7 linked regions of the Homo sapiens genome follow. The protein of the gene in region 2 purifies or fractionates together with the protein of the main gene of each other region. This does not show direct contact. Each region holds a gene or a part of one and is shown on either strand. Other genes may lie near its edges. The genes, in order: AGAP1, CAMSAP2, KCTD3, DCLK1, CGN, GIGYF2 and DNAJC3.

What was found.
Region 1: the proteins of CAMSAP2 (region 2) and AGAP1 purify together in Homo sapiens (affinity purification with mass spectrometry, with the first as the bait; one large-scale study listed by BioGRID). This does not show direct contact.
Region 3: the proteins of CAMSAP2 (region 2) and KCTD3 purify together in Homo sapiens (affinity purification with mass spectrometry, with the first as the bait; one large-scale study listed by BioGRID). This does not show direct contact.
Region 4: the proteins of CAMSAP2 (region 2) and DCLK1 purify together in Homo sapiens (affinity purification with mass spectrometry, with the first as the bait; one large-scale study listed by BioGRID). This does not show direct contact.
Region 5: the proteins of CAMSAP2 (region 2) and CGN purify together in Homo sapiens (affinity purification with mass spectrometry, with the first as the bait; one large-scale study listed by BioGRID). This does not show direct contact.
Region 6: the proteins of CAMSAP2 (region 2) and GIGYF2 purify together in Homo sapiens (affinity purification with mass spectrometry, with the first as the bait; one large-scale study listed by BioGRID). This does not show direct contact.
Region 7: the proteins of CAMSAP2 (region 2) and DNAJC3 fractionate together in Homo sapiens (co-fractionation; one large-scale study listed by BioGRID). This does not show direct contact.

Annotation. Positions count from the first base shown.
Region 1 is NC_000002.12:236,039,040-236,043,518, reverse strand, and holds part of AGAP1 (arf-GAP with GTPase, ANK repeat and PH domain-containing protein 1), read right to left. Parts: intron 2,769-4,479; coding exon 2,678-2,768; intron 1-2,677. UniProt on the Homo sapiens protein: GTPase-activating protein for ARF1 and, to a lesser extent, ARF5. Directly and specifically regulates the adapter protein 3 (AP-3)-dependent trafficking of proteins in the endosomal-lysosomal system.
Region 2 is NC_000001.11:200,850,098-200,854,576, forward strand, and holds part of CAMSAP2 (calmodulin-regulated spectrin-associated protein 2), read left to right. Parts: coding exon 1-137; intron 138-2,443; coding exon 2,444-2,580; intron 2,581-3,177; coding exon 3,178-3,398; intron 3,399-4,479. UniProt on the Homo sapiens protein: Key microtubule-organizing protein that specifically binds the minus-end of non-centrosomal microtubules and regulates their dynamics and organization.
Region 3 is NC_000001.11:215,597,704-215,602,182, reverse strand, and holds part of KCTD3 (BTB/POZ domain-containing protein KCTD3), read right to left. Parts: intron 317-4,479; coding exon 229-316; intron 99-228; coding exon 1-98. UniProt on the Homo sapiens protein: Accessory subunit of potassium/sodium hyperpolarization-activated cyclic nucleotide-gated channel 3 (HCN3) up-regulating its cell-surface expression and current density without affecting its voltage dependence and kinetics.
Region 4 is NC_000013.11:36,121,102-36,125,580, forward strand, and holds part of DCLK1 (serine/threonine-protein kinase DCLK1), read right to left. Parts: intron 1-4,479.
Region 5 is NC_000001.11:151,517,438-151,521,916, reverse strand, and holds part of CGN (cingulin), read right to left. Parts: intron 3,412-4,479; 5' UTR 3,398-3,411; coding exon 2,525-3,397; intron 1,752-2,524; coding exon 1,651-1,751; intron 1,504-1,650; coding exon 1,434-1,503; intron 1,322-1,433; coding exon 1,226-1,321; intron 1-1,225. UniProt on the Homo sapiens protein: Probably plays a role in the formation and regulation of the tight junction (TJ) paracellular permeability barrier.
Region 6 is NC_000002.12:232,843,424-232,847,902, reverse strand, and holds part of GIGYF2 (GRB10-interacting GYF protein 2), read right to left. Parts: intron 3,858-4,479; coding exon 3,648-3,857; intron 3,535-3,647; coding exon 3,329-3,534; intron 2,172-3,328; coding exon 2,017-2,171; intron 556-2,016; coding exon 332-555; intron 1-331. UniProt on the Homo sapiens protein: Key component of the 4EHP-GYF2 complex, a multiprotein complex that acts as a repressor of translation initiation. In the 4EHP-GYF2 complex, acts as a factor that bridges EIF4E2 to ZFP36/TTP, linking translation repression with mRNA decay.
Region 7 is NC_000013.11:95,791,454-95,795,782, reverse strand, and holds the end of DNAJC3 (dnaJ homolog subfamily C member 3 precursor), read right to left. Parts: 3' UTR 795-4,329; downstream 1-794. UniProt on the Homo sapiens protein: Involved in the unfolded protein response (UPR) during endoplasmic reticulum (ER) stress.

The sequences.
Region 1 (4,479 bases), on a different chromosome or scaffold from region 2:
CTGACCTCAGGTGATCCGCCCACCTTGGCCTCCCAAAGTGCTGGGATTACAGGCGTGAGCCACCGTGCCCAGGCTCAATTAAGTCTTTTTCCATGATTTTTAAAGGTAGCAAAGACAAGACATCACCATGAACTGCTCTTCAATTGTTAGACATTTGGGATGCTTCTGATTTTTTGCCATGTAAAGCACTGTGATGAACATCTGGAAAGACAGATCTCTGCACCCGCCTTACTCAATCCCATTGGTTTAGTTCCTGGAGTATACAGCTGGAGTCAAGGGCATCCACTCTTCAAAAGCTTTTTATATACATTGTCGAAAGGCCCCATGGAGGTGTTTACAGTTCATCATCAGTGTGGGCACTGTACCTATCCCGGTACTTTAACCAAAATTGGGTATTTTTACTTAACAAATCCTTGCCAATGTGCTACATCTTCTGAGCCTTTCCATTCTTGAGAAAATACAGCAGGCTGGACAACAGATGGGTTTGAATCCTGCTTTGGGACTTGCTATTTCTGTGACCTCAGACAAATGACTTGACCCTTCAGGCTCCTCAATTCCTCCCCTTTAAGTGGGGCCCACAGGGGCACCAACTACTAGGGTTGCAGAATGAAAAGACAGCGCATGGGAGGGTTTGGCACCGGGCTGACACAGACCACACATTTAGCAAATGCGTGCTTGGTATCGCCTCTTTCTCCTGAATTGTCAAACTCTGCCTTTTCCCTTTGTCCCTGTCCATCTGCTCAGGTGGTCTTGCTCAGAACAAACTGGCCCACACCTCCCCTGCACTGGCCTCCCTTTCCCACCCCCCATCCGCACTCACATGCACAAGCTCATCTCAGACAGGACCTGCGACCTCCGATTTGCCAGGTATCATGGTCCCCGCAAGCCACGGATGGCTTTCCTTTTAAAGCGACCTTCAGACGCACGGTGGAAACAACTGCAGGCATTTTCCTTAATGGATGTTCTAATATTTCTCAGATTCGTGCTTTTAAAAAAGCTCTTACTTTTAAAACTTTTTGATAGAAACACACTTCAAATAACTGCTTCTCTCTTCGAACTTCATTTCACCACACATTTGAAAGTAAAACTTAAACATTCAAACATAAGGAGGTACTTTAAAGAAGAACCTCAAGATACCTGGAGAAGAACCCCTTCCCTCACCCGCAGGACAGGCTTCCAGAGAGGCCGCAGACAGACTTTTGATCTCTCCCCTGCCTGCTATGCTGCTGAGTGGACTCTTGGAGGGGGCGCTTCCTTTCCCTTTTGTCTGGAGCAGTCCTGGGCTCCTGTCTCCCTTCCCGGCCAAGCCGACCCTGGCTGGCCTCCTCCCTGCTTTGCCTCTATTCCAGTATGTTCAAAATGGTCTGGCCAGATCCATCTCCCCAAGTGGAGCTCAGGGTCCATCTCCTTCCTGCTCTAAAACTCCAATGATGTCTCTCTGCTTACAAATGAAGAACAAAGCTGGAAAAAGTTTCACTTGGCACTCACACTCCAACTAGCTTCTACTGGTTTTCCAGCCCAAAAAGCATCTCTAATCCTACAACCACCCAGAGAAGCTCTCCTCAAGCCACTCCCTTTGCTCACAGTGATTCCTTCGGCCCCTTCCCTGTACAAACCCTGCCCATCTCCAGAGCCCTGCTGACACGACAGCTCCTGCATGGGTGGCAAGACCGCCGCATGCCCCCGATGGCTCTCCCCAGCGCTTAGCTCCATGGTCAGCAGGTTGGTGCCTTGTCCAGTGCATTTCAGGCTTCAGGATGGCAGGACCCACCACGCCATGCACGTTTGACTCCTGGGCAGCACCCAGCCTGGTACCAGCACCTCTTACCTTGTTTGAACTGAACTTCCTTCTCTTCAAAACACTACTTAACAAAAAAAATCTGAAGGGAAGAAATTTACTGAATGTCTCCAATACTGTCTCTGGGCTGGGACTGCAACCATGAAAATAAGTCCCTACTCTCAAGATTATGAACAACAAAATGACTTTTTCAAAGGGAAAGTAATAGTATGGATTAGACAACGGAAATCATGAAATAAAACTGGGGTACTCGATGGCACAAAGCAGTAATTACAACTTCTATCAGTTCAATCAGAGGCTTTAGTGGGTAATGGATTTAAGACCAAAAAAAAACAAGACATCATTTGATGGCAAAACCCAGAACATATGATTGTGAATTTAAAAAAACAATACCCAAGAATCTCTAGGCAGGAATGAACCAATTATATTCTATTTTTATGAAAAAAAAAAAAAATCAACAAGTGATCACTGATTAAGCAAAAAGTAAGCCAGCTGCCACGCCTAGTTAATTTTTAATTTTCTGTAGAGACGGGTTCTCCCTGTGTTGCCCAGGCTCGTCTTGAATTCCTGGGCTTCCTAGATTTGGCACAGGCTGTGGGTGTGGGGTTGAATCCTTTGCACCTCAGGTATGACTGCTGCTCATCGGATGCCTAAGGCAAGGAAAGACTCACAGAAACGCACCCTGCAGCCAGGGGTGAGGCTTGTGTGGAAGGCACTCTGTTAAGGTAAAATCCAAACAAAATATCTCAATTTCCTAAAAGCAGTTAACTCTTATCTGCCAAACAGGACAGATGTGAGTCCCCTGCAACCCGGGCCTAGTGGGACCATGTGGTCTCCAGCTACACAGCGCCAGCCCCTGCTACCACCGCACACACTTACTCTGGGTCTCGCAGTCCACACAGTGGGAGTTCCCGCGCATGTTCCGGATCGACTGCAGGGCCATGGCCTCGCTCTGGCTCGTCAGCCGGGACTGGGCACGGAGGAAGACACAAATACAAGGCGTAAGCACCCCGGGAGAAACGCACATCACTGATAACATCAGGGAAAGATCAAACAGATTGGGAGCAAATGTAGGACGAGGGTAATTTCTAAACAATCACTCTTGTTTTGATGTCTTTGGGAAAGAGCATAACTGAAGAAGAAATCATCATGCATGGGGCGGGGGGAGGGAGGAAATGTCACATTTTAACTCATCAGCTGAGACGGACTCTGCCAGAAATGAGCAAAGAGGAGAGTTCTGGATCATCTGTGAATACGCATGGACCATGGTAACCTGGAGAAGGTAAATGGGTAACCTTCTGGGCAGTAGCCACATGTCTACTTGGTAAGAAGAATGAGAAAGAAATAATCCGTTTATAAGCCCAGGGTTAGGGCTTCATCAGCAATGTAAGACATATCTCATGGTTCCTTGTCAGAAAACCCCATTCATACCACACGTCACCCTGGGAGATGCACATGTCATCTGAAGACCCTCGGTTGCCACAGTGACAAAGCCACTCGCCAGGGTGGGGGCAGGGAGAAACACGAGTATAGCTGGGAGTGCTGATTCTTAACCTTACACTTGATGGCTTGCTTTATTTTTATTTATTTATTTATTATTATTATTTTTTGAGCCAGTGTCTCGCTCTGTGGCTGAGGCTGGGGTGCAGTGGTGTGATCATAGCTCACTGCAGCCTTGAACTCGTGGGCTCAAGTGATCCTCCTGCCTTAGCCTCCTATAGTGTTGAGATTACAGGTGTGAGCCACCACACCTGGCTCTATGGTCTTCTTTAAAAAGGATTTAAAAACATACATGCTCATTGAAGCAAGTTTAGAAAATACAGAGAGGGGAAAAAGAACATAAAATTAATAAACAATCATACGGCCATCCATAGTTAAGCATTATTAACATTTTGATGTCTGTTCTTTTAGCCTGTTGTTTAAGCACATCTACATACACATATGTACTTTAAAAAGCCAGCGTAATACATATTGCTGCATAGAAACCTGCCCTTTCCAGCCTAACGAAACTTGTTCATTGCTCACTGCTGTCACATACTCTCTGACATCATCATTTTAAATGGCTGCATAGCATTCCACTTAGTGAAGACCTACTTATCAAGTTCTCTTTGATGGACATTTAAGTTGCTTCCAATTTTTCTCTATCATAAACGATGCTGTAAGAACATATGATTGCTAAGTCTTGGTACACACTCATGATTATTTACTAAGAATAGATTCCTGGAAGTAGAAGTTCTAAGTGAAAGGATATGTACTGGATATGTACCTTTTTCCCCACCTAGAGAGAGGGTCTTGCTCTGTTGCCCAGGCTGGAGTAGTGCAATCATAGCTCACTGCAGCCTCCATCTCCTGGGCTCAAGTGGTCCTCCCACCTCAGCCTCCTGAGTAGCTGGAACTACAGGTGTGAACCATGCACCTGGCTATTTAAAAATTTTTTTGTAGAGACAATGGTCTCCCTATGTTGGCCAGGCTGGTCTCGAACTCCTTGCCTCAAGTGATCCTCCCACCTTAGCCTCCCAAAGCACTAGGAGTACAGGCGTGAACCATCGTGTCTGGCTGATATGTAGTGTTTTTGAGGCTTATTTATTAAGTATGCATTTAATATTATGGTTAAAGCAAAAATTGATCAATTTCAGAGGACAGTTACAATAAGCTTGATTTTTGCGTAAGAATTCTTCATA
Region 2 (4,479 bases):
TTAATCTGATTGAAGTTTCCCTCTCAGATTTGAAACCCCCTGAAAAGGCTGATGTACCTGTTGAAAAATATGATGGAGAAAGTGATAAAGAACAATTTGATGATGACCAGAAAGTATGCTGTGGATTCTTTTTTAAGGTGTAGTATTAATCTGCATAGTTTTGGGCATCTTCATTAGATGAGTGTGGTTGTGTTGGATATTTTTTTTTTCAGTTGACATGCTTGCTTCTTTCAGTAGCAGTCCCTTTTGATACAAGTTCATCCCCATTAACTATAGTAACATTCAAGCACACTGTGGTTTCCAGTATGGACTCAAAGCTGTAATAAATCCTTTTATCACATGTTTAGATGTATTCCTTGGTTTTGCTCCTCTACTGCTCTTTCTCACTCACAAAAGCCTTTTAAAAATTAAGCTACTCAGATCTCTTCAGAGAATGATTCCATTTTGTCTCTTAATCATGTAACACTGCCATTTTTTTTAACAGAATGCTACTGTAGACACTAATAGATATTAAAATTTACTGCCTAGAGACTCTGTTCCTTGCAGAGGAAGGGAAACAAAGGGGAAGAAAATCATTAGTATAAAACAGGCAGTACCTCTGTTGCTTCATTTCTATTCCATTTATTTACACATCTTCACCACCCCATTACTCATCTGTTGGACTATGGTTACAGCTTCTTGACTGGGCTGTCTGTCTCCAATCATGCCATTCCAGTCTTCATACTGCTACTAAAGGTGATAGTTCCAAGAGCATAGCTCCAATTGAGTCTCTTTCTAGTCAAAAATCTTGCCTGTTGAATAAAGTTCAAACCCTTTAGCACAACATTCAGGGACTTTCACAGATGAACCTAAATCTTTTTGTCTAGCTTCTTCCCCATAATTTTATTTTGTATTGTTCTTTAAGATTAACTTCAAGCTTCATCTAAAGCCTTTTATAATTCCTTCAGTCGAGGTCAAATGTTTCATCATTTGTGTATCTATTGTATCCTTAAATATACTCATACCTGTCCTGTGTCCCGGAGTTTTCAACTGTTTTGTATGATTTGCTTTGTCTCTTAGACCATGACCTCCTAGAGGTGCTGCATCTTTTTATTTTTATTTATTTATTTATTTATTTTTTGAGACAGAGCTTCGCTCTTGTTGCCCAGGCTGGAGTACAATGGCGCAATCTCGGCTTACCACAACCTCCGCCTCCTGGGTTCAGGCGATTCTCCTGCCACAGCCTCCCTAGTAGCTGGTATTACAGGCATGCACCACAAAATAAATTTTGTATTTTTAGTAGAGATGGGGTTTCTCCACGTTGGTCAGGCTGGTCTCGAACTCCCAACCTCAGGTGATCTACCCGCCTCAGCCTCCCAAAGTGCTGGGATTACAGGCATGAGCCCCCGTGCCCAGCCAAGGTACTGCATCTTTTTATCCCCATAGCATAATAAAGTGTCTGGCAAACTACAATATATGTAATTTGATAGATGAAGACATATGAATGTTTGAACTAATTGCTTGAATGGTATCTTCTGACTTTCTCCATTCAGAGTTAAATCTCTCTCTGGGTTTCCATACAAAGCCTGTTGTTTGTACCTCTTCTCCTTGTGATTTTTTAGGCTCCTTGACCTGAGGTACCATATATTTTAATATATGTAATATCTGACACTATGTTGTGAGTATGTTAGACACCAAAGAAATGTTTATTGAATTAAGCATTGGCAGGGACAGTTGACAAGGAGACATTAAGACAGTGAACCACTTCTACAACAGCTTGTTACTTTGCTGAATTCTGAAGCATTTTGGAAGCCCGCTGAGAACTAGGGCTGTCCCTAAGGATTCAGGTAGAAACTAGGGCAGGCCCAGGAGGCCTATAGATAATGAACTAGCTCTCAAATTAAAAGTACTGTAGAAGGGAAGTATAATCATCCCCATCTTTTCTTCAATGGAAAAATGTTCATTATAGTTCAGAACCTATCAAGCAGACTGTCAGTACCTCAACTTAAAATCATGCAGCAATAGTTTCATTTATGTGCTACAACATTGGGTGGCTAATTTTGGGATGTTTTTACTTGAGGTATTTTTACTGAGCTTATATTTTAAATAAAATTTAAATGCAATTTTAAAAATTGGTGGGGGAACTACCTACTGTAAGTTATTAAATTAGGGTTAAAAAAAATTTGTGCTTTTTTGTTTTGTTTTTATGGTTGTTCTTTGCAAATCTCATAGGTTTTGACAGAGTGTAATTAAATAAGTTTGCCTGTCCTCTTTTTTGATGGAACTGTTACCACTGTAGTTCCGTTCTTCCTTCATAATTTCTCAACCACACCCACATTCAGAAGGGTTGTAATAGTTCAAACTTTCAGTTATAGGACTAACCACAAAATGTGACTACAACAATTGAAAATGAGAATATTGGTACCTAAAATGTTTGATCGTTTTCAATGAAATTCGTTCTTAGGATGATCAAAAAGCAGAAAATGATATGGCAATGAAACGGGCAGCTTTGTTGGAGAAAAGATTAAGAAGGGAAAAGGAAACTCAGCTCCGGAAACAACAGTTGGAAGCAGAAATGGAGCATAAGAAGGAGGAAACAAGGTAAAGGAAATTGCTGGCCCAGTGCTAGATCTGAACTTTAATGATGCATGGGCATATTTAGAAAAAGTTGGTAAGTACTCAAAGAGGTGGTCTCTCATTAATTTTTATTAACAGATTTCTTTCAGAGAAGTTTGTAGTATAGATAGACAGCTGGATCAATGCTATTTTTTGGTGCTTTGTAGAAATCAATTTATTTTCCCAAAGTATTGCCTAATTTTATATTTTTATCTTAAGTTTAAGGCATCTCATGGGAAAGTTCTCTAGAAACATTAATTTAAATAATTATATGTTTAAAAAACATTAAAATAACTTTCCTGGGAGATACACACACACACACACACACACACACACACGACCTAAATTATCTCAAATACCTTTATTTTTATTTATTTATTTGACTCTTCCTTCCCTCCTTTATTTACTTATTTATGCTTAATCCCATGTCTCAGCAGAATCGTCAAGTACCTTTTAAATGAACCATTTATTCACCAAGGTGATGAAATAGAATTCTCCTTTCTCATATCAAATACATAACTCTCTCCTGTATGGTTTGTCTTTGGTATGCAGAATAAGAACTGTAACCATTTGATTTCTTAGGCGTAAAACTGAGGAAGAACGTCAGAAGAAAGAAGATGAGAGAGCACGCAGAGAATTTATTAGGCAAGAATATATGAGGCGGAAACAACTGAAACTAATGGAAGATATGGATACAGTAATTAAACCCCGTCCTCAAGTAGTAAAACAAAAAAAACAGCGACCAAAATCTATTCACAGAGATCATATTGAATCCCCCAAAACACCAATAAAGGGTCCTCCAGGTAACATAGCTTATTATGAAGAGTCTGTTCATAAAAAACACCAGCTTGATTGGTTTGTCATACTAACTTGGTTGTACTTTGATGTGCAAAATTGGATACACAGTTTGAGATTGTGCATGCTCCCTTTTGGAAAACCAAAATGAGCAAATGAAGTTTTTAATAAATTAAATGTATTATGTGTGCATGCATATATTCAGTAGAACAAATGTGAATGCTAAAAATCAAATCTAAATATTAATCTATTAGGGAACTGTGCCCTCAGATATAATCTCCTTGAACTATTAACTGCCCTTTACATACTTATAAATTTAAATAAATGTTATATGCATGAAATGTACAAGAAACATGTTGGTATAATAAGGAATGCAAGATCAAGAGTTCACAAGTCCCTCCTTCAAGATAGAAATGGTTGAAAATCCAAACTTATAATATCTGGAGTTGAGAGAATATATTTTCTTTAAAAGTCAGTATACATACTCATTATTACTATTATTATTTTTTGAAACGGGGTCTCAGTCTGTTGCCCAGGCTAGAGTGCAGTGGTGTGATCATGGCTCACTGCAGCCTCCACCTCCCTGGGTTCAGGTGATCCTCCCACCTCAGCCTCCTGGGTAGTTGGGACTACAGGTGAGTGCCACCATACCCAGCTAACTTTTTTGTATTTTTTGTACAGATGGGGTTTCTTCATGTTGTTCAGGCTGGTCTCGAACTCTTGGGCTCAAGTAATCTGCCTGCCTTGGCCTCCCAAAGTGTTAGGATTACAGGTGTGAGTCACTGCGCCTGGCCATACTCTTATTTTTAAAAAAATCTTGGGGGGCAGGGATAAATTCGTAAAAATAAAAGAAATCTTTATTAAAACCAAATGCCATGGAAATTTTTTAGAGAATTCTCATAGTTATACTAAACCTGAGGAAAAATAACATAATATTGACTGTTTAAAGAGAACTCTGTTTTCAAGCCTGTAAAACTAATTGATATAATTTTCTACCTAGAATTTAGATATTATGAAATTTTTTTTTGTTATTGTTTTTTTCTTTAGGATCACAGTATCACGTCTCATATTAACACTTTCCTTTTGGAA
Region 3 (4,479 bases), about 15 Mb from region 2:
AACACTCAGAGCAGTAATAGCATCATTTGAAGGATCATGATACAGTTCAGTTACAAGAAGATCATTATCTTTCATTCGCAAGGGGAACTTCTGCATATCTAAAACATAAAAATTTTAAACAGCATTAAAATAAATAGCATATCTATTTAAAACTGAAAGGTAATGTTTTCTTGTTCTCATTTAAAAAATTACATTAAGCAGGAGCATTTTAAGTGACTGAACACTTACCTATGTAATATATTGATCCATTGTTACATCCAAGCAGAAGGAATGATCCAGCAGTGTCATAACTAGTTATAGGAACAACATCTTGAACCTGATGTAGTGAGAGTATTATCAGATGTTAGATAGTAATTATAATTTCTATTTTCTGGTCAATTTCCTCAAAACTTTGATTCTTCTGGTAAAGAGGCAACCAATATCCAATTTTAGTAGGGCTTAGGAAATAAACTTTCTTTAGGTGCACGCGTGCACACACATATACACAAACATGCTACAGAGGAGAACCATCAATATACTTCCTTCAAAATATTTTTTTTAAATTGTATTTCCCACAGCAGTACTTTCCTTTCTCAATTTCGATTGGTTGTCTCCTCTTTTTTTGCATGTGATCACTAGATTGCAGCCCACTAGAACTGGAAGGCCGAGTCTGACCAGGTCCCTCTCTTTTCCCTTTCTCATACAAGAGATTAAATGACCTGTCCAAAGTTACACAGTAAGCAAGTGACAGAATCAGAACTAGTAAACAAAGCAACTGATTTCCAGAAAGTACTTGCTCCCTTGATAATTTATTATTTCTCTGAAAAGGTGGTATTCTCTATTTTTCATTCTCCTTGCTAAAGGTTACTTCTTTTCTAGGAAATGGCAAGGGAAACAAAGTCTCATTTGTATTTATTTTTTTAAAGTATAGGAATAAAAAAATTAGTTTTTCCAGGAAAATCAATCTAGTTTACAAATTAATACCTTCCCATATTTGTGCTAAAAGAAACCTGCCGAGGCAGGCAGATCACCAGAGGTCAGGAATTCGAAATCAGCCTAGCTAACACGGTGAAACCCTGTCTCTACTAAATATACAAAATTAGCTGGGCGTAGTGGCGCATGCCAGTAATCCCGGCTGCTCGGGAGGCTGAGGCAGGAGAATTGCTCGAACCTGGGAGGCAGAGGTTGCGGTGAGCGGGGATTGTGCCACTGCACTCCAGCCTGGGCAACAGAGTGAGACTTGGTATCCAAAAAAAAAAAAAAATGTGTTTGCTAGGATAGTTGCAATACTATTTTACTAGAGTGATATTCTACTATTCATCAAAATGAATCTTCCCTGTTTACAGCCAGGCCAGACAAGCCTGTTAAGCTTCTTCACAGATGACATTTGAATTACTAAGACACCAAGTTTTGCATACAAGTCTAAAAGATTTCCAATAATTTAAAAGTTAAAAATGTTAAGGGACTTTTACTTTTCATATACTATACCTGGCTTTCATTTGAAAAGTTAAAATCTAAACATTATCTGCTTAACATTTAAGTACTTTTTATGTACCACATATTATCCAAGAAAACAAACAATGAACTAGAGATAAGGGATGTGAGGTATCCCCTTGCTCTCTAGGAGCTGGTAACTTGTGAGAAAGAAAAATAACAGACAATTATAGTGTGACAGGCACTAAAATAGACTACAATACAATCACAGGAGAGAGGGGAAGAACTGCCATCTCAGTGCTGGTGGGTGAAGAGCAAAGATCAAGGAAGGTTCACAGAGGAAGTGAAGCTTGAAGACTGAAGTCAACTATGAGTTAGGTAGGGCAAGGGGAAAGGGAATATCTGAAGAGCAAGTAAAAAAAGCACAGAATCTAGGTTCATTCTAATTAAAAACAGAAATAACTAAAACTTGGAAATAATCATTCCTCTAAGCTCTTCCTGTATATAATCCTAATTTCTGTACCCTCTCAATGTCATGCAGTTATGAGTTACACAAGAAATATCTCAAAGAACTCAATCATCATGCCCTATCCTGAGGTCAGGCTTTTAATTAAAGCCAATGCCAAAACATTTTATACCAGGAAAACATTGAGTACTTTTCAGTGATATCAGTAAAGATGTCTAAAGGATGGAGGGGAGACTGCTTTACACACCACTAACCAATTTTCTTACTCAAGTTAGCTAAATCATTTTAGTTCTAGCACTAAAGGAAAGGGCTTCAACTCCTGCCCCAGATTCTTCATGGCAGGAAAATGGGGACAGATAAGGCCATGAGATTCTTCTCCCTTTGGATACATTCTTTTTTTTTTTTTTTTTTCAATGAAAGAGCAGCAGGAGCCTAGCGCTTCCCAAGGCACAAAGGCAAACATTTTTACCATTTATTCTCTGGGAGGATGGGCTCTAGGATTAAAGCCTTGCTACTTCTCCTTCTGTAACCTTTAATCATGATCTGCCTTTCTTTCCATGTCTACCCCTCCATACGGGAAAACAGAGAAAGCAGAGGATAAGCAGAGTTACAGTGAGTTACAACTGCTGAGTTCTTCTCTCCCAGCACAAGCAAGGAAGCAGCCACTGTGTGGCCTCCTCTTCTTCGTCCTAACAACTTCATGGCAAGAATCCAAGAAACCATACTGATTAGTATGCATGGTTCAGTCATGTGGTCACAAATATAAAATGGAAGTGGATTTTTCTCTTATAAGGTAGCACACAGTGATTACCACTAATTTCTACATGTAAATTTAAATTTACAGTTTTAAAATACCAGTCTATCTTCCCATATAAGGCCCCTAGAATCTTTTAACTACAATCTCTATACCTGTAAACTTATCATTATTTTTTACAGGATGTTTTAACCTTCGTCCATTACTTTTTAAATAATCACTTATCTAAATTTACCATCGTATTTACCAACATCTTTCCTAATCACTGCTTAATGCATTCCATTTCTTCCCCTTCAAATATAACGTTCTTCTCAAAAGGCATTTTTCTTTAGTAGTCCTTTCAAAAATTCTCTCTGAAAAAAAACCCTTCTCATTCAGGTTTGAATGATAGTTTTGCTGTGTATGAAAACCTAGGCTGAAAGTTACTTTCTCTACCATTTGGAGAATGCCCGTTGTCGTCTTCTGGTGTCTACTACTGGTGATGAGAAATCTGATCAAAGTCTAATGACAGGCAAACTGTCACTATTCTATGAATACTTTTTATCATAATTTATCTTTTATTATAGCACATTTAAACATTCAGGCTGCCAAGACTTGGTACATTTCTTTAATCAATAAATTCATGCCCATTTTCATTTCTCCAAAATGTTAGCAGTTGTTATCTTTTTCAATATGGCTCCTCTAGTCTGTTCCTATCTGAAATGCTTTCTCACTTTTTCCTTCTTTTTCATATTTTCTATCTCACTCTTGGCTCAACTGGAAATGATTTTCTCAGACGTGTCTGTCAATTTACTAATTTTCTTTTAGCTGCGCTTCTATTTAACCATTAAATAAAATTAAAAATTTTTTTTCAATGACCTTTTAATTTTCAGTATTTTATTTCCCTCCATTTTCTGATTTGTCCTATTCCTTCAATACAGCAGCTTTCTAATTGTTCCATTATTTCCAATTTGGGGATTGCAAATTTTTTCTTGTTTAATGACTTTTCGTTATTTGTTTCCATGTGAAGTTTATAAGTTTTGGGAGGTTATTTTAGCAGAAATTACTCTTTCTACAGGATTCTTGTGTGCTCTCTTCTGAGAAAGTGTTCTAACTGGTGTCATATCTGTATCTAGAAATGTCAATAGTCCTAGATCAGTTTCTCAAATTGGAGTTCTCATAGAACAAAGGCAAGTCTTTGTGCTTCAATTCACTCCTAATTTGAATATGTTGGTTTCAATTTCTAATGGTTTCCTCTTGCATCTCCTTTTCCCATTCCAAGACACCAAACACACATCAAACTTTCTTGTTCCAAGATTACTGGGCAAACTTTTCCCAGTCTTCTCAGGGACTGAGAAACTTAAAACTTCAGATTTTTGTAGGAGGCTCAATTTCTACTGTCCCATGAAATCATGCCTCCTACTTTTGCTAAAATCCCAGATCCCAGAGCCTTTACTTTGGTATGTGGTATGAAAGTGTGTATAAACAAACTAGTCAATTAACTTAATACTTAGTATAAACAATATACATTGTTTCAATATTTGTATCTAGTATTTCTATATATAAATTTAGAAAGTCTAAATCTAAGTAAGTATCTCATATTTCTTACTATAAATTCTGTAAGTAAGCAAACAGACCACAGTTAAGACAGCAGTCAAGACAATACTGAAAAGTCAATCCCCTCTCTCCCCAACAAAATGTGGGCCTAGGATTCCTAGGATGCCTGCCTTATTCCTATTCCTAATATGCAGAGGTCTGTAAACCTATCACACACACAGAAAAAGTGTGCTTCTAACATCAGTGCTACAGGTGCCTCACAACAGGAAAGAGAGAAGCTAAATCAAACAAGTCTCCCAAATTCTTGTCC
Region 4 (4,479 bases), on a different chromosome or scaffold from region 2:
CACAACCTAAAAGCATATTGATAAAAGACTGGTTAAATTAATGATGGTAACTTTGTATAAAGGAGTACTATGAAGTCAGTAAAAGAACACAGTAGTTTTGGATGTACCAGTATGGAAAGGTCTTCAGGATATATTGTTAAGTACACAAAGCAAGGTGCAGAACTGTTGGCATAAAAAGTTACCTTCTGGGCAAATTACAGTACTGCCCCACTTTATCCATGGTTTCAGTTACCTGCAGTCAACTGAGGTCCAAAAATATTACATGAAAAAATCCAGAAAGAGACAATTCAGGAGTTTTAAACTGCATGCAGTTCTGAGTAGTGTGATGAACTCTCACGCCATCTTGCTTCTTCCATCTCTATCACAAGAAGGGCAAGTACAGTACAAAAGGATGTTTTGAGAGAGACGCCACATTCACATAACTTTTATTATAGTATATTGTTATAATTGTTCCATTGTATTTGTTATTGTTGTTAATTTCTTGCCATGCCTAATTTATAAATTAAACTTTATCATATACCTTGCATCATATACATACCTTTATCATAGGTATGTATTCACAGGAAAAAAAGCACAGTATACACAGGGTTCAGTACTATTTGCAGTTTCAGGCAACCACTGGGTGTCATAGAACGTATTTCCTTCCAGGATAAGGGGGCATTGCTGTATATGTGTCCTTCACATGCACTGGTATCTCTGAGAGGACCCTCAAGAAACTAGTAGGCTGGGCACAGTGCCTCACGCCTGAAATCCCAGCATTTTGGGAGGCTGAGGTGGGTGGATGGCTTGAGCCCAGGAGTTTGAGACCAGCCTGGGAAACATGGCAAAACCCTGTTTTTTGTTTTTGCTTTTGTTTTTAAAGAAAGAAAAAAGAAAAGAAAAAGAAACTAGTAAAGTGGTCCCCTCTGAGGAATTTTAGGAAGAGCAAATTTTATATCTATTCAAAAATTAATTTTAAAAAATTCATTATAGCAAGGAGAGGCATAGAGAAAGCCAGTGAAATAGGGAAATAAAGTAGAGGATGCTCTATTAGGGAATAGGAAAAGATGGGTAACCCAGAGGCTGTGGTAGGAAAGAGATTCCCTAACTGTGGGGTGAAGCATGGGTTTAATCCTGAGAGGGGGATTATGATAGAAACTTGGAAAAAGCCCTTATGCAAACTGCAGCTCCAGAGTCAGGCAACGTCCATACAGGGTTAGTGAAAAGCCAAGGCATACATGAGAACCAAAGAAGAAGAGGGACTCATCTCTAATAGCGCAGATCTGATGAACAAATTCACTTACTTGTATCCAGAAGATTACATATCTACAGAGTTTTTATCTTAATGTTTAAAGAAAATGTTCTGGCCCTCTCACATGTACATTTTCATAAGATGTTAAAAGAAGGACAAATCAGTCAATCCATCAATGCTCCAGGTTTACATTACATCTTTCTCCTAAGAGTTCAAAGGCTTTAAATGTGACACCTTTATTTATCATCACAACATTTACCTACCTACAGTAGAATATAGATGGTGCAAAATTGGGGGAAATGAGGCCAAGTCTCAAGATGAATCACTTGCGGAAATAGGCCTGCAATTCAACTTTCCTTATTAAGCATCATGATTTTTTTAAAAAAACATATTAAGGCCATTTTGAAAGCAAACAAGAGTGTCACCTTTGGAATGCTCTTAAGTGTATGTGTGTGAATATGTGTGTATATACATACATATGTGCATAGGTGACACACATACAATCATAGACACACACATTCACACTGACTATATGATTTTGGCTCAGCTAAATACATACAGCTAGCTCTACCAACATGCTTAAACCACACTTAGGCATAATAATCCATAGATAAAAACAAAACAGTGACAGTGACCACAAGACTGTCATAGATAAAGAAATTCACAAATATTGTAATTCAGAATTTTTAGTCTGAGAGCAAGTGAGAAAGAGCAAGAAAATAACTATAAGTCCAATACACTTGCCACTGCACCCACTAAAAGGATTTAATTTAAAACTCAAACATCATCATATTGGAAGGGGAAATGAAAAGCTAATAACATGCACTGACGTTTACATAAAATTAGTATGTAAAGTCAGAGATATGAGCCTAATGATGAATATGAACCAACGGTTTGCATTTTAACAGACTAAGCAAAAAATGTAATTGACAAAGAGGCGAATCTAAATGAATTTCCAGCTATTTAAACACTAAGTGCAGCTGCATGCTAATTGTCAGTGTTATGAATTAGAAAAAAAATCTGTTTAAATGAAAATTCAAAAAATAAATGCAGCCAACATGGTGAACTCACACACTGTACCAAAGTTACCATTCATTCAATCAGATAATTTTTTTTTCCCAAAAAAGTCATTTTTAAACATCAGAATATTCAGTCGGCAGTTACTTCACATTGATTGAGGGGAAAAACTCAATATAGTAGTTGAATTCATAGCACACAGCATCTTAGAGGTAGTTATGAGCTCAAGCTTTGGCACTAGCCTTCCTGGGTTCAAATCCTAACTCTACCATTTCTTTCTTTGTGAGTTTGAGCAGATCATTTAACCACACTGTACCTTCCTTTTCTCACCTTAATATAAGGATAACAGTTCCCACCTCCTAGGATCATTGTGAGAATTAAATGTATTCATATATGCAGGGATTTGGCCAGTGCCTGGCACATGCTCAATAACTGAGAGCTATCATTATTACCTTCAGTCAAGACATCAGTCCCTCAGAGAAAGCATTATTTTGCAGTAAAAGACAAAGAAGATGGTGACAAGCATGCCATAATTTTGCTGGTCCCTAGATGTGAAGGGAGTACTGTCATCTACCACCTCCCAGACCCTCTCCTTGGTGGATGGGAGTCATTGGAGTATCTTCGGCCACTTCTAAGTAAAGATCATTTCTGGGTGGGAAACTGATTGAAGTACCCCAACCCCCATAGATGCTACACAAGTGACTCTGGAACAGAGTGAGGTGTCAACCCATGGCTGTCTTAGGATGTGCTTTGAGATCTTGCCATATTTTTCCCTACAGTACTACCGGCCCTCAGAGGGACGGCTTGTTGACTGGTCATGCACCTGACTTTGCGTATAACTTTTATCCAGATCCCCTAGACTATACCACCAAATGTTTCATTTAACCTTGGATTTCCAAAGGTCATGCAAAGGACAGGGCACAGAAATTAAAGCTGAAACAGTAAAATTTCATGTTAATTCTTCTCCTTTAATTTACTGGAAGTTCCACCCTCTGAATAGAAGGAAAAAGGCCAAGTCCACAGGCATGTTGGCAGCATGTCAAGTCACCGAAAAGGGATGTGAATTCCCACAAAATAAACACAGGCTCCTCTGCACGCTCTCAAGGCCAGTCACACTGTGATCAGGCTGGCATTTCTGCCAAGGGATGAAGGGAAGCAAAAAGGGAGAAGTCCCCAGCCTTGAATCACATACATACACTGGTTACAAAGCAGGACAAGAGGGCTCTGTCAGTGTGCGGTCAGGGGAGAGCAGCCCCCAACTCCAACGGGGCTGCAACGGGTGCTTCCTGCTACCTGCACAAGAGAGGGAGGGATTATATGGCATCCCTCCTGGACCCAGTTGAGTTACACGGCCTGAGCAAATAGTTCTGGAGTAAAAATGAACTCAAGGTGAAATCAAGCTCTTCCAACACTCCATCCAACCTCCCTTTCCCAGATTCTTTTGTGCCATCTACTTCTTCATCATCAGGGCCTTGAGATCTCAATTTCAGAAAAATCAACCCTCCAAAAAGGATCTGCTAGCTTTTTTTGCACCTTGGTATACATTTAATCCCAGTCTTTTTTCTCCAACTCATTTTAATTGGCGATGATTTCTAAGGCAATGACAGGCTTTATGCCCTGTTCAAACAGGGTCAGTCCTGAGGCAAGTGTAGCCCAGAGTCGGTGACCTTCTCTGCTTGCATAAGATACCAGGCTGCATCCGTGGACGCAAACAGTCCTATTTCCACATTAAATGTCTAAAACAGATAATGACTATTAACCTAAATTGGACTTAAAAAATTAAACTGAACAGATTAGTCCCTGCATATCCTCAAAAATCAGAGAAAGACAATAATCCTTTAAACTCAAAAGGAAGCATCGCAGTGGAACGAGCTGTCAGAAAACCTGTTTTGGTCCAGGGTCATCACTATCTTACCACGTAACCACCGACATGTCATTTGAATTTTCTGGTCCTTAGACTCCAAAGATAAAATTAATGGGTTTGATAGCTATCTAAGGTTCCTTTCAACTCTAAAATTTCATGATCCATTTGTCATTTTCAATTCAAGTACTTTCGGATATCGTGATAGCAAAAGTTTAATTTGCATTTAGAAACGAATATAAACTATGAGATTGAAGAGATAAAATGGACTTTTAAAATTAATGCAGCATGGGTATGAGAAAGAAAATAGAGAATGCTGTAGAATTAGGGACTTTTTCCCTTAGCACATTATTATAAGCTACCTGACAAT
Region 5 (4,479 bases), about 49 Mb from region 2:
CAGGCTCAGAGCCACAATTACCCTGTTAAGCTGATCCCAGGTTCTTCATCCTCAGACTCTGGGAAATGCTTTTTTTTTGAGAAAGAGTTTCACTCTTGTTGCCCAGGCTGGAGTGCAATGGCAGGATCTCAGCTCACCACAACCTCCACCTCCCGGGTGCAAGTAATTCTCCTGCCTCAGCCTCCCAAGTAGCTGGGATTACAGGCATGTGCCACCATACCAGGCTAATTTTGTATTTTTAGTAGAGACAGGATTTCTCCATGTTGGTCAGGCTGGTCTCAAACTCCCAACCTCAGGTGATCTGCCTGCCTCAGCCTCCCAAAGGATTACAGGTGTGAGCCACTGCGCCCGGCTGGGAAATGTTTGTTTAAAGCTATTGAGTTTTGGGTAATTTGTTACACAGCAATAGTTAATTAATATAGTACTATCATAATCCCCACTTTACAATTTAGGAAACAGAGGCTTAGAACATTTAAAGAACTTGCCCAAGGTCAGTTACACAGCCAACAAGTAACAGAACCAGGATTTGAACCCAGTTAGTTTGGCTCCACAGCCAATCACTTAATCATTACACTACAGTGATTTCCAAAAGACAAGGGAAGTTACAATCCAACATTTATTGAGCACCAACTACACACAAACCAATATGATGAAAGGCAGAAGACATGTTTTTAAAAAGGGTACACTGGCTTTAGAATAAGACTGACCCGGATTTTTTCATTCCTCTCTGCAACTTACTACCATAGGCAATTTACTTAGCCTCTCTGATCTTCAGTTTTCTCATCAGAAAAGGGTCCAGAATAGGTATTCACAGGGTAACTATAATGATTACAGTACCCAGGACAGTACATACTACCAAAATTATACTCAATAAATGATAGCTACTACTATTGCCATTATTATGATAATGATAAAAAAAAATTGAGGCACAGAGAATGTAAGTAATTTTCTTAAGTTTTATATAGCTAGTAAGGGGCAGAGCCAGGATGGGAACTCCCAAAGGGAGTGGAATGGAAGGTAGGTAGATTCCTAATGTGCTCTGCCTCCCTAACCCCCACAGAACCCCAGAAGTCCTTCCTGGAATTAGTACACATTCTTGTCTCTTGTCTCATAAGACACAAACATGCTTGTTCCATTGCTTAGAAGGGTCAGCTCAGCCCATCTCCAGGCCAAGGCTTTTTCCCTGTTTTCCTTCATGCCTCCGGCACCTCTAACCTTTCCTTACCTTCACCTCTTCATCCAGCTTTCGCTGTAGCTCCTCCACTTTTCGGGTAAGCTCACCCTGCCCTGCCACGGCCTTAGTAGAACCAGAAGAAACCATCTGCCAGAGATATGGGGGGTGTGGGGGAAGGGAGTGAGTCCAAGTCTGGATCCCCTGAGGCCCTCAAAGCTCTAACCTTGACCCTTGCTCCCATCCAGAGAAGGCCACTCACCACTAGAGGCTGCATCTTCTCCAGCACCAAACTAACCTTCCTCCTCACAGAGGTTTCACTTTCTGAGCTTCTAGAGGATAAAAGGATAGAAGCAAGGGTTAGGGGAGGAAAGAGGTAGCAGAGATCAGGAAAGGGTAAAATCAGGGAAGATGGGAAACAAAGCTAGAAGAAAAAGAAGGAGGGGTATGCCTCTGTTGTTGGGGGGGCCCCCACTCACCCCTCCCTCAGGATGCCATAGATGGTGGCCTTCATATGGTCCACACTGCCTGGTGGGGCTGCCTCCTGCTGGTCTCGAAGGAGGTCTGGAGTTGATTTGAACTGTTAAAAAAAAAGAAAAAGAAAAAAAAAAGAAAGAAAGAAAGAAATAGGAAGATTAGGCCAGAAGCATGCGTGGGGTTCAGATGGAGGAGAAGTGGCAGTCTCAGGTCAAGTCCCTTCAAGCATGATGAACAATCCTGAAATGCAGCAAGGAAAACATGCTGTGGAGGCCTGAGCAACAGGCCAGGGAGAGGCCAACACAGGATGCACCTCTGCACTGTTGCTGTAAACCAGATTTTCCTCAACAAACATCTCAACCAGCTGCAAACTGTGCCACAAGTGATTTGTCACTAATGGTAGTTAACATGCTAGAGTTTATAAATAATTTACTTTTAAAACAGACTTACGTTTCTCTCAAAGTAAAGTCACTCCCTCACTTACTTACATTCCTGAGTAGGAGAGAAAGGTGTGGAATTTTGGCAAGAGCACCAAGGAAACTGCTCTTATCCTCCAAGCCCGCCTTACATATTCTGCAGACCTTGCAAATGCTGGTGACTGAGCCATAGTTAATGGTTGTGGCAATGACAACTAGGTCCAAACTTGTGAATAGTGATTTTATAGCTTGCTCCATTTTCTTTAGAATTTTACCCATGGAAATATCCTGTGCATGTGAATATCACCTATTTTGTGGACAGATACAGTAGAGAACAAAAGGCAGAGAGTTTCTGCCTAGGCTATTTGAATTAGCAAGGAGGCTCATGGCTGGTGGGTAAAAGCTGATGAGAAGGGAGAAGGGGCTGACATTTAGAAGTCAGGGAGGGGCTGGGTCTGACCTGCAGCATGGTGGGGTCCTGTGCACTCCTCCGCGGCTCCTCAAAACTCTGAAGGACCCAGTCCTGAGTCTGACGAGAACGGCTAAAGCCACTGAGAGGACTCAGGTTCTGGCTCTGGGCTGGCTGCTTCGAAGTGCCCACATGGTTGTCATATTTTGTGCTAGAGGTCCAGTGGTTGGTGGACTGGCGCTCCCGTTCCTCAAAGGTGTCCCGTGGGAGGCGGCTGTCCAGGCTCTTGCTCCGTTTGCGCTGTTCAGGGGGTAGCATCCGTGTTCGGCGGCCAGTCCGACCCCGGGCCTGGCCTCCAAGTTGACTGTCAAACTTGTTGATGAGTGAGTCCACTGAAGACAGGGGAGCAGTGTCAATGGTGCTACCTGGGGAAGCCACTTTCGGGGCTAGCTCCAGCATGCTGTTGCTTCTGTTACTAGGATCCACTGGGCCAGGGCCTGCCAGTGAGGCCTGGGAGTGGGAACGGAGTAGCTTTCCATTCCAGTAGGCCCCAGGCTCCTCATCAGATGTGCTGCTCTGCGAGGGGGCAGGAAATCCCTTGACCTGAGAGTAGGGGTTCTCAGGGAGTTCCAAATCTGAGCTCAGAGCTCCTGAGGCCCCTTGGTCATTGGCCCCCTTGATTTGGACCCCAAAGGAGTCACCGCCTTTCTCCCCACTGTTGAGCACCACAAAGGGCTGCCCAGCGATTCCCTGCACACGCACAGCAACCCCGTAGGTACTGGCTCTTGCATCCTTAGCTGGGCGTCGTCCACCTCGACGTAGAGTGCCCATCTCTGCACCACTCACTGGCTCTGTGATGAAGCGAATCTGGACTCCATGGTCTACGGGGCCCCGGGGCTCAGCCATGTTGGGTGCCTGCTCCATAAATAGGAGGAGTCCTAGAAGATGAAGAAATGAGTTTAGGCTGAGAGACTTCACTAGAAACTATGAAACTTCTACCTGCGGGCTGACTTCCCTGTCAGTTCCTACTAGATAAACCACTGATTCTCAGACTAACAGAAGGCCCCTGGAGAGCCTTTTAACATACCGGTTGCTGGACCTAACCTCCAGAGCTTCTGATTCAGTAGGTCTGGGTTAGGACTTGAGAATTTGCATTTCTAACCAAGTTCCCCAGGTGATACTGATGCTACTGGTCCAGGTACCACACTTTGAGACTCACTAACCTAAAAGAATCCACTTCCTCTGATACAGCCCTGGGGAGCTAGGCTTTGTTAAAAGTTTAAAGATTTTGCTTGATGGCCAGGAGCAGTGGCTCACACCTGTAATCCCACCACTTTGGAAGGCCAAGGCGGGTGGACTGCTTGAGCTCAGGAGTTCAAGACCAGTCCGGGCAACATGGTGAAACCCCATCTCTACAAAAAATACAAAAATAAACTGGGCCTGGTGGTGCACACCTGTAATCCCAGCTACTTGGGAGGCTGAGGTGGGAGGATCACTTGAGCTTGAGAGAGGCTGCAGTGAGCAGTGATTATGCCACTGTTCTCCAGCCTGGGTGACAGAGTGAGACCCTGTCTCAAAAAAAAAAAAAAAGATTTTACTTGATCTTCATACATACATATAATACCACCATGTGGCCAGGTACAGTGGCTCATGCCTATAATCCCAGCACTTTGGGAGGCTGAGGCAGGTGGATCACCTGAGGTCAGGAGTTCAAGACCAGCCTGACCAACACGGTGAAACCTTGTCTCTACTAATAATACAAAAACTTAGCTAGGCGTGGTGGCGCATGCCTGTAATCCCAGCTACTCAGGAGGCTGAAGCAGAAGAATTGCTTGAACCCGGGAGGTGGAGGTTGCAGTGAGCCGAGATTGCGCCACTGCACTCCAGCTTGGGTGACAAAAGCAAAACTCTATCTCCAAAAAAAAAAAAAAAAAACACTGTGTGCCTTCTTCCCTTCCTCCCACCAAGGGAAGGCAGAACCCACACCCTGCTGAGCAGATACCTCC
Region 6 (4,479 bases), on a different chromosome or scaffold from region 2:
GGAAAATTCAACATTTTAAGTTTTAACTTTTCAAAACCAGATCTATGGGTTTGACATGTTGAAATGTGCAATCTAACTATGACACAAATACAAACCAAGAAAAATGGAACTGGTAAACCTAGTGTAAAATGAATGGTTGTACTTGCTATTTGGGAGATACACAAAGGTATCTGGACAAGTAATTTGAAAATATGAAGTATACACATTTTTTAAAGCATGGTTATTGGATATACAAAAATGGTACCTTTGTATTAATTTTCATTTCTTGGGTTACTCAACATCTAAAGGTATTAATCCTCAGAGGTACCGCATACACCACACTACTTTATACCTGCTGTTGTGGCTGCTGTGGCGGCTGCTGTGGCGGCTGCTGCTGCTGCTGCTGTGGCAGCTGCTGCTGCTGACGCTGCTGGTTGGCTTTCTGTTTGGCACGGCGCTCAAGGAACTGCTTGGCAAACTCCTTGGCCTCAGAAGTATCTCCTAAATAGGCCCTGATATAATCATGGACCTCATAAGGAGATTCTACTTCTTTCAGGAAAGAAACAAATGTGGGAACTGCAAAACGGGAGGGGAGAAGATAAGGGTAACAATGAAATAATGAAAGAGAACTTACAAAAATCAGTTTCCATTTTTAATGTATCTTTATACCTAATCAAACATTAATGACAGACACTTGGTAAGTATGCAGCAATTGTGTTTAAATATTCTTTTATCTACCCTATAGAAATGAAAAAAACACTATAATCACAACATCCATACCACATGTTTAATTTCACTGAATGTTATACTGACTGAAACAGTTACTTGACTAAGGCTGAAGTAATTTGGGGATTCATTCTTTCCTTAAGAACCCTCAAATTCAATCAGTATTTATTAACTCCTATGATATGTGTCAGGCACTACAACATACACTAAAGAAAACAGCTATATCTTCCTGGAACTTTCAATCCACTGAGATTTTTTAGAGAGAAATCAAATGGAAAATGTAAGCAGTGTGTGGTATAGGAGAAAAGCATGAGTATCAGAGTTAGACAAACATGGGTTTAAAACCTGACTCTGAAATTTGCTGGCTGTGTGACCTTGATGAGTTATTTAACCATTCTGAGCCTCTGTTTCCTAATTTATAAAATGGGGATAATATCACCTATCTTGTAAAGGTATCTTTAAAAATCACTGCTAATCAAATAACTGGGATGCTGCATGTTAACTCCAAGAGAGTGCCTAGCACACATGGTAGGTGCTTAATGCATGGCAGCCATTACTGTTATTTAAAATTGTTTTCTCTGTAGGCTTTTAAACCATTAGATATTGTTACACTGCTGCAAAGGAACTCTTTAATTCCTTTACTGCTATTTTTCACAGTTTCTTGGCTTTAGACAGGGTATCAGAGGTGGATTAATTCAATTCAGCCTATTAGTTAGGGGAATCCTGACATGTTGACCAGTCTCTCTTCAAATATTCAGGGATGGGAGACAGTTCTGTTTGTAAACAGCTAACCATGAGCAAGTTTTTCTCTAAACTGTGCCAAAGCCTTTTCACTTCTGCACATTGGTCCTAGTTTTATCTTACACAAAATAAGTGTACTTGCTTTATCACAATTCCCATTCCCTCCCCCAAAGGTAGAAAGGGAATGATGTCACATCACTTCAGCCATCACTTGTCCAGGTTGACCTTTGTCCCCAGCATGAGAGTTACTTTTTTTAACTTGACATAGCTGGCAATGTTCCCCATAAAATGAACAGTATGGAACTAAGACCTCCTCTGTCCTGTGTATCATTAAGGCAGTCTAAGATGGCATTTACTTTTTGACAACCACCAATAATCTATTTGAGTTTAGTATTACTGGACTTTTCTCACAAGTAATACTATTAAAGAGTCAAGTTCCTATGGCAGGTGCAGCAGTTGACCTCCTTAGATTTCATCTTTTGACTTTTGGCCCACTGTTCAAATTTGCCAGCCTCTCTGTGGGTCCTGCTCTGTCATTCCACATGCCGGGTTTCCCTCCCCAATTCTTACCATCCAAGTTATTTGCCGTATTAAGGGCATGAAGCATCTGTTCACACCACTGCGTAAATCCATCTTGGGCTTTATTTACTCCCTGAAAGAGCTTCAGCAACTTTTCTTCTTCTTCTACTTTCTTATTCTGCCGGTTAGACACACCTACAGATTTACTAAAGCAAAACAATAGGGTGATATTATATTCCCAGAAACTGTTACTATATGATTATAGTACAACACCATAAATAATGTCTTGGCAATACTGGATGGATGCCCAGTAAATAATCCAATGCTTGGCTCCAAAAAAGAAAAAAATTCAAATATTTGGATTGGATATACCCTTAAAATCTAGCCTCAGTTAATATATCCTAATTTGTGGATACAGGGGTTCTACTTAGAAAAAATGATGAAATTCTTCCTACGTGTCCTTAGGTAAGTTGTTTAATTTTACTAAGCCTCAGTCTCCTCATCTGTAAAACGGTACTAACAACTTTTTTGGGTTATCATAAGTAATAAAGATGTTCTATGAAAAGGCCTACAGCACAGTGCCTGGCAAAGATGCTCAATAAACTAACAGAAATTTATTGTTCTATTCATAATATGTTAGGCCCTAAATCAAGAAGAAACAATCTGACAACACTACCATTTATTAAGTAGTTACTATGTGCCAGGCACTTACTACTTATCATGTATTCATTTAATCTTTACAATTACATGCATAAAGTTGTTATTATTATCTTCATTTTACCGATGAGGGAACTGAGGCCCAAAGAGGTTCCCTCTTGCCCAAGGTCACACAGCTAATAAGTGGTAGTGCTGGGATTTGAGTTCATGTATTTAACACTAAAACCCATGCTCGTTCAACAACACTGTATATTGAAGAAAGAAAGATGAAGATGAAAATGTAACTAACTTATAAAAATAAATAGGTTTAAGGTCATTACAGAGGTATTTTATAATACTCATATTAATAGCATAAATTACTTAAAAATACAAATATAGGAAAAATGCTAAGGTATCTAGAGAATACCTTGGAGAAATGTTCAACAACACAACAAAAACATTATACTATTCCTAATATTTATTAAGTGGTTACCATGTGCTAGGCGATAGAATAAGTGCTCAGCAGGAGCCCCAAGAAATAATACGAATGTGTTTCTATGGGGAAGAAAGCAATCACCATAATTATGACTGCATGTGCTTGAACACAGATGAAAACGGTAAGCAAAAACTCAATAACTACCTTTTCCTGCCCACCCAACATCCCACTTCCTCCATCCCCACCTCCCAACCAACCAAGGTGCATAGGTGTGGTCATTTTGAGCCCTACCTGAGACTGGCGTTGTTTTTATTTTTATTTGTTGAATTCCTAGGTCCCACCTCTTTCACTGCATCATCCCAGAATCCCATGTTGGAGTTTTTAGTGTCAGCATTACTCCAAATACTACTGACTAGGTCAGATGCCCACTGGTTAGGAGGACCAGTATTTATAGAGCCCCAAACAGAATTCCCAATGCTGGTGTGCAGGTTGGAATGCTGTTAAAGAAAAAGAGAAAAATGATTATCGTGAATCATGTTAAAAAGATAAGAAGACAGTCAGAAAAGATAATACTAGTCCATACAACGACAGCTTAGGAAAATGCACACACCGTATTGTTACGAGCTCTGTTTGGTTGCTGGTGTTGCTGCTGCTGCTGCTGCTGCTTTTGCATTTGCCTGGCCTCTTCCTGCTGGATCTCCAGAAGAGATTTCGTGGTACCTGAAGGTTTGCTGACATTCCCCCAACCTGAGAGTTTCTGCTGTTGCTGTTGCTGCTGCTGCTGAAGAGCTTTCATCAACTCCCTCTGCTGGCGCCTTTGCTGTTGCATAAAAACAGAAGCTAGCTGAGGATTCCTGTTTTTAGATAATAGTTATAAATATCCAGTATACTAAATGGAATGTAAATACACAGTAGCTACATAAAATTAACTTGATGGGATTAAATTCTGCTGTTGCAAATAAAAATGTAAATCGCTAACAGTATTAAAAAGGAGAATAAAAACATGAAATGCAAAATTACTTCTTTTTTTATTGTTGTTGAGACTGTGTCTCACTCTTCCGCCCAGGCTGGAGTGCAGTGGCACACTCTCAGCCCACTGGAACCTCCGCCTCCCAGGTTCAAGCCACAATGCCCGGTTAATTTTTTGTATTTTTAGTAGAGATGGGATTTCACCATATTGGCCGGGCTGGTCTCGAACTCCTGGCCTCAAGCGATCTGCCCACCTCGGCTTCCCAAAGTGCTGGGATTACAGGCATGAGCCACAGTGCCCGGCCTCAGAATTACTTTTTTTTTTTTTTTTTTTGAGACAGGGTCTCGCTCTGTCGCCCAGACTGGAGTGCAATGGCACGATCTCAGCTCACTGCAACCTCCGCCTCCCGGGTTCAAGTAATTCTCCTGCCTCGGCCTCCTGAGTAGCTGGGATTACAGGCGCCTGCCACCAC
Region 7 (4,329 bases), on a different chromosome or scaffold from region 2:
TCACGCCTGTAATCCCAGCACTTTGGGAGGTCAAGGCAGGTGGATCACGAGGTCAGGAATTCAAGACCAGCCTGGCCAAGATGGTGAAACCCCATCTCTACTAAAAATACAAAAAAATTAGCCAGGTGTGGTGGTGGGCACCTATAATCCCAGCTACTCGGGAGGCTGTGGCAGTTAATTGTTTGAACCAGGGAGGCAGAGGTTGCAGTGAGCCGAGATCATGCCACTGCACTCCAGCCTGGGCAACAGAGCAAGACTCCGTCTCAAAAAAAAAAAAAAAAAAAGGAAGGTTTGAGCTTTCTGGAAAAGTTCTGTATACATTTACATATCGTAGCTCTCCTTGGATCTTTCTTAAGATATGCAGAATACATTAACTGAGAAGGCAGTTCCTTCTGTTTGTAGCTGGAAATTTGAGATAGATAGGCTATAGTGTCCTTCCTTCCTCCCAACTTAGGACCTTAACAGAAATGTACAAATGGGGTATAAAAGAGAAGAGAAAATCTTCAGACAAAGCCAATTTAAGTGTTACATTTTAATAGCACTGAAATGGAAGACTTGTCCACTTTTTAAGTCCTTAGTTGTCCTAGGACTTTTGAGGGTTAAGAGATTTTATTTTAGCCCTTTCTGCTTTGTGTGTTCTGACCTTCCCTGTCAACTTGTGTAAAGGAAGAGCCCTTTTGTCACCTCAGTCACTGGTTTTGCGTGAAGCAAAGCTGGAAATAATAGACTTTTCCTAAGACGGACTTTCTTAGAATTTTATACTCAAGGACAAAAATGAATCAAAAGCAAGGAAATACTGATATGACCATAAATATTTTTATTAAATGTGAAAATACACGGGCATAAAAATAGTACCCATATTTGTAGACATGTCTGAGACCCATTTCAAATATTAGGTTCCTTTTTTATTAAAACACTACATTGAGATGGATTAAGTTACTTAGTCTTTTCTCATTCAAAACAAACTAAAACCTCACAGCAAGAGTAATATTTTCACAAACATCTCCAATGTTTACCTCCTCCTTGCTCGGCTTTCCACTGCAGGTAAGTGTTTCAGCCACAGACAAGTGCAACAAAACCGGTTACTATACACAAAGCCACGCAGTGGCTAATTTTACTCTTAAATCAATCATTCAGCAAATGAGATCATCTGTAAACAAACAAAAAAAACCCCCAAATAATCCCACCTCTTAACGTCATTTGAAATTACAGGATAAACTGCCACTAACAAAAAAGGAATGATCTGATTTAGAAAAAGGATATTCGTTGTTGGCAAATTAACATTTGCCTTCTTCCTTCCTTTATAAATTTGGAAAAGTCAACTACATTCAACAAAGTTGCGTGAACTTCTCTAGGTGATACCATTGCTGTGTGCTCAGTGAAAACTTTGCAACGCCCATCACCAGGGCCGTGTCTGTAACCTCACCAGGGAGCCATTTTATGTAGTTTTTTCATGGTAAATGTCAAAGACAACTTCTGACCCATTTAAAGGTGAAATTTTTCATCATCCATTGTGAGTAGAAAATGGTATCAATTTCAAATTGTGGTTTTATTGGCTACCTTTTTTACCAAGTTATGTTTTCTCTTAAACTGTGGGTAGTTTTAAAATTCCATTATCAGGGCAACAAAAATTTGTTTTCATACCAATACTTTAAAAAAGATTTTTAATACTGACTAAAGAGAAAGGCATTGTAGAATTAGTAGTACGTTACATCTGATTCACATTAGTAAACTGTCAAGATTTTTTTCAAGTTTTCATCTATTCATGGTAAGAAAGCACAAACTTTCAGAACTGAGGAATGAATTAAATTTTGTCTCCCGTTTTGGAACCTTTTCACAATGCTTCTAGACTGATGTGTCTAATACTTCCTGCTGGGCAAAATATCCACAAAGTACAGACCACTGATAACTCCACCCATGAAGCTCACCAAAAAGGAAAGAAGAGCAGAATACAACAGCTGTGGCTAGGGTACGCCTCTCTGATTTCACTTTTCCTGAAAGAGCCATAAAGGTTACCTGATGGCCAGGCGCAGTGGCTCACGCCTGTAATCCCAACACTTTGGAAGGCCAAGGCGGGCAGATCACAAGGTCAGGAGATCAAGACCATCCTGGCTAACACAGTGAAACCCCATTTCTACTAAAAATACAAAAATTAGCCAGGCATGGTGGTGCGTGCCTATAGTCCCAGCTACTTGGAGGCTGAGGCAGGAGAACTGCTTGAACCCGGGAGGTGTCCCTGCACTCCAGCCTGGGCAACAGAGCAAGATTCTGTCTCAAAAAAAAAAAAAAAAAAAAAAAAAGGTTACCTGGCACCTGTAGTCCCCAAGGGAAAATGAAAGTAGTATGGTTTTACAGTGGATAATGCTACCCTACAGTGAGACAGGCAGGGGGAATGACTATCTCTTTACACACCCAGGCTGCTTCTCAGTCACACATTAGGGTAAGCAGGAGTGACTGTCTCTCCGTTTGGGTGGACACCAGAAAACTGCCGACAGCCATCAAGGCTGAAACTCAACAGTTGTTACTTTCTTCATGAATCAGCGAAACAACAGATTGCAGAGAATTCATTTCCCTCCATGGCACTGGCATGTGGCACCAGAGCTGCTTCTCTCTCTTCACTGAAAACAGGCAAGTAACTGCAGGTCAGTTAAGATGACTAAGTAAATCCATGATAAGAATTTAGGAGCTGAAACTATGGTTGTTACAAGTGGAGAAAAAATGAAAATGCAAACAAGCCTCTGGGCAGCAGGTGGGAGGTGGCCAGGCCCCCACACATCTCCTGTGCGGCCCTTGACCCCTTGTTGTTGGCAACTGTCGTGCTCTCCAAGTGGAAAGGCAAGTGATTTGATATTTCCTTTTTTTTCTGACTCTATGTGAAAATTCTTTTCAAAGTAGGTAAAAGCCATCACTATATTTCAAAGAGGTCACAGTGACATCATATACAAAAGGAACCAGATTGAAAAAGATATTGCTGACATAGCCAGTAGTGAGATTACTAAAGAATAAACAGAAATGCCTTGGAAATTATTTTTACACCGGCTTGAATTGAAACATTAAAGCAAAATGAAAGCTGTAAGGTGTTCACTAGTTTTCCAAATGCGTTGTCAAGTTTATTGGTAAGAAATAGACTCCTAAATAGATGCAGAAAGCACTTAAGTGTTCTGCTCAATTCAACTATGTGATTTTTGTCTCTCAGTTAAAAATTTGTCCACCTATGTTTCAGGATATGACTACAGACGAAAACGATTTGTGCTTTGCTGTTATGGATGTCCGTGGTCAGGATGCCTCCCACAGTGAATTAAAATGCTTGATTTCATTAAGAAAAAAAAATTAGACCCTTTAATGGTTAAAACACTTCAAAATGCTTTGAGGCAGAAACAAAACCTTTCCAGAATAAAGGTAGCAATTCCTATCTATCTAAAGTAATTCCTTCAGCTTTCAAATGCAGCATCAAGAGTGCCATAAATATTCAATATTCTTGATTAACATTTTTTAGGGAAAAAGCATTCAGTATACAAAGACTGAATAGTTCACTTCTTAAATAGTATCTTCTTAAAAGGTAAGAAGAACATATCTCAAGAGGAGATGCCATCTTATTAAATGAAACAACAGTGGAAATATAGCCAGACCTGACTAACCTTGCCTGTATTTTCTTGTAGGCAGGAGAAAATCAGAGGCATCAAGATCTGGTAGAAGGGCCGGTCTGCTGTTTAACACATACCAGCAGACAGGTCCCACGTGGGAGGCACCACAGACCTTTAAGATAGGGTGAAGCCTTGATAGAAGGAGAAACAGAAGCTGCCCACTGTCTTTACTTAGAAGTGGAGAACATGGCATTCTGTATTTATTTATGTTGACTGCGCAACTTTACGTTTCTAAACCAGTCTTGTTACATGAAATTCCCTATAAAAACTCAGAACTTCAGTTGTTTAAAAAGTATTTCAATCTGCACTTCAGCAATATTATTTTAAATACCACCACTATTTTATCTGAACTTATTTTACCTATAACAACTTTTAATTTGTTGTGTTTAATATTAAAAGGGTCCATAGGAATTTATAGATTCAAGTTTCAGTATTCTTCTTCAGGTACTGAACCAAAAAAATGTACATTTAACATTAATCCAAAGTCTAAGCCTGGATATATTATTATTTGGTGGCAGGGTTCCTAAAAGATGGTCTCTTGCTCCTTCAGTGACAGCCACGTTGACAGACCACAGAGGTGCAAACACATGCACACTAAAGATTTCACAGCTACTCACAAGTGACGAGACTGACCACATCGAAGCACAGTTGTCCCTAAGAACATACAGCTCAAAAATGTTCATGT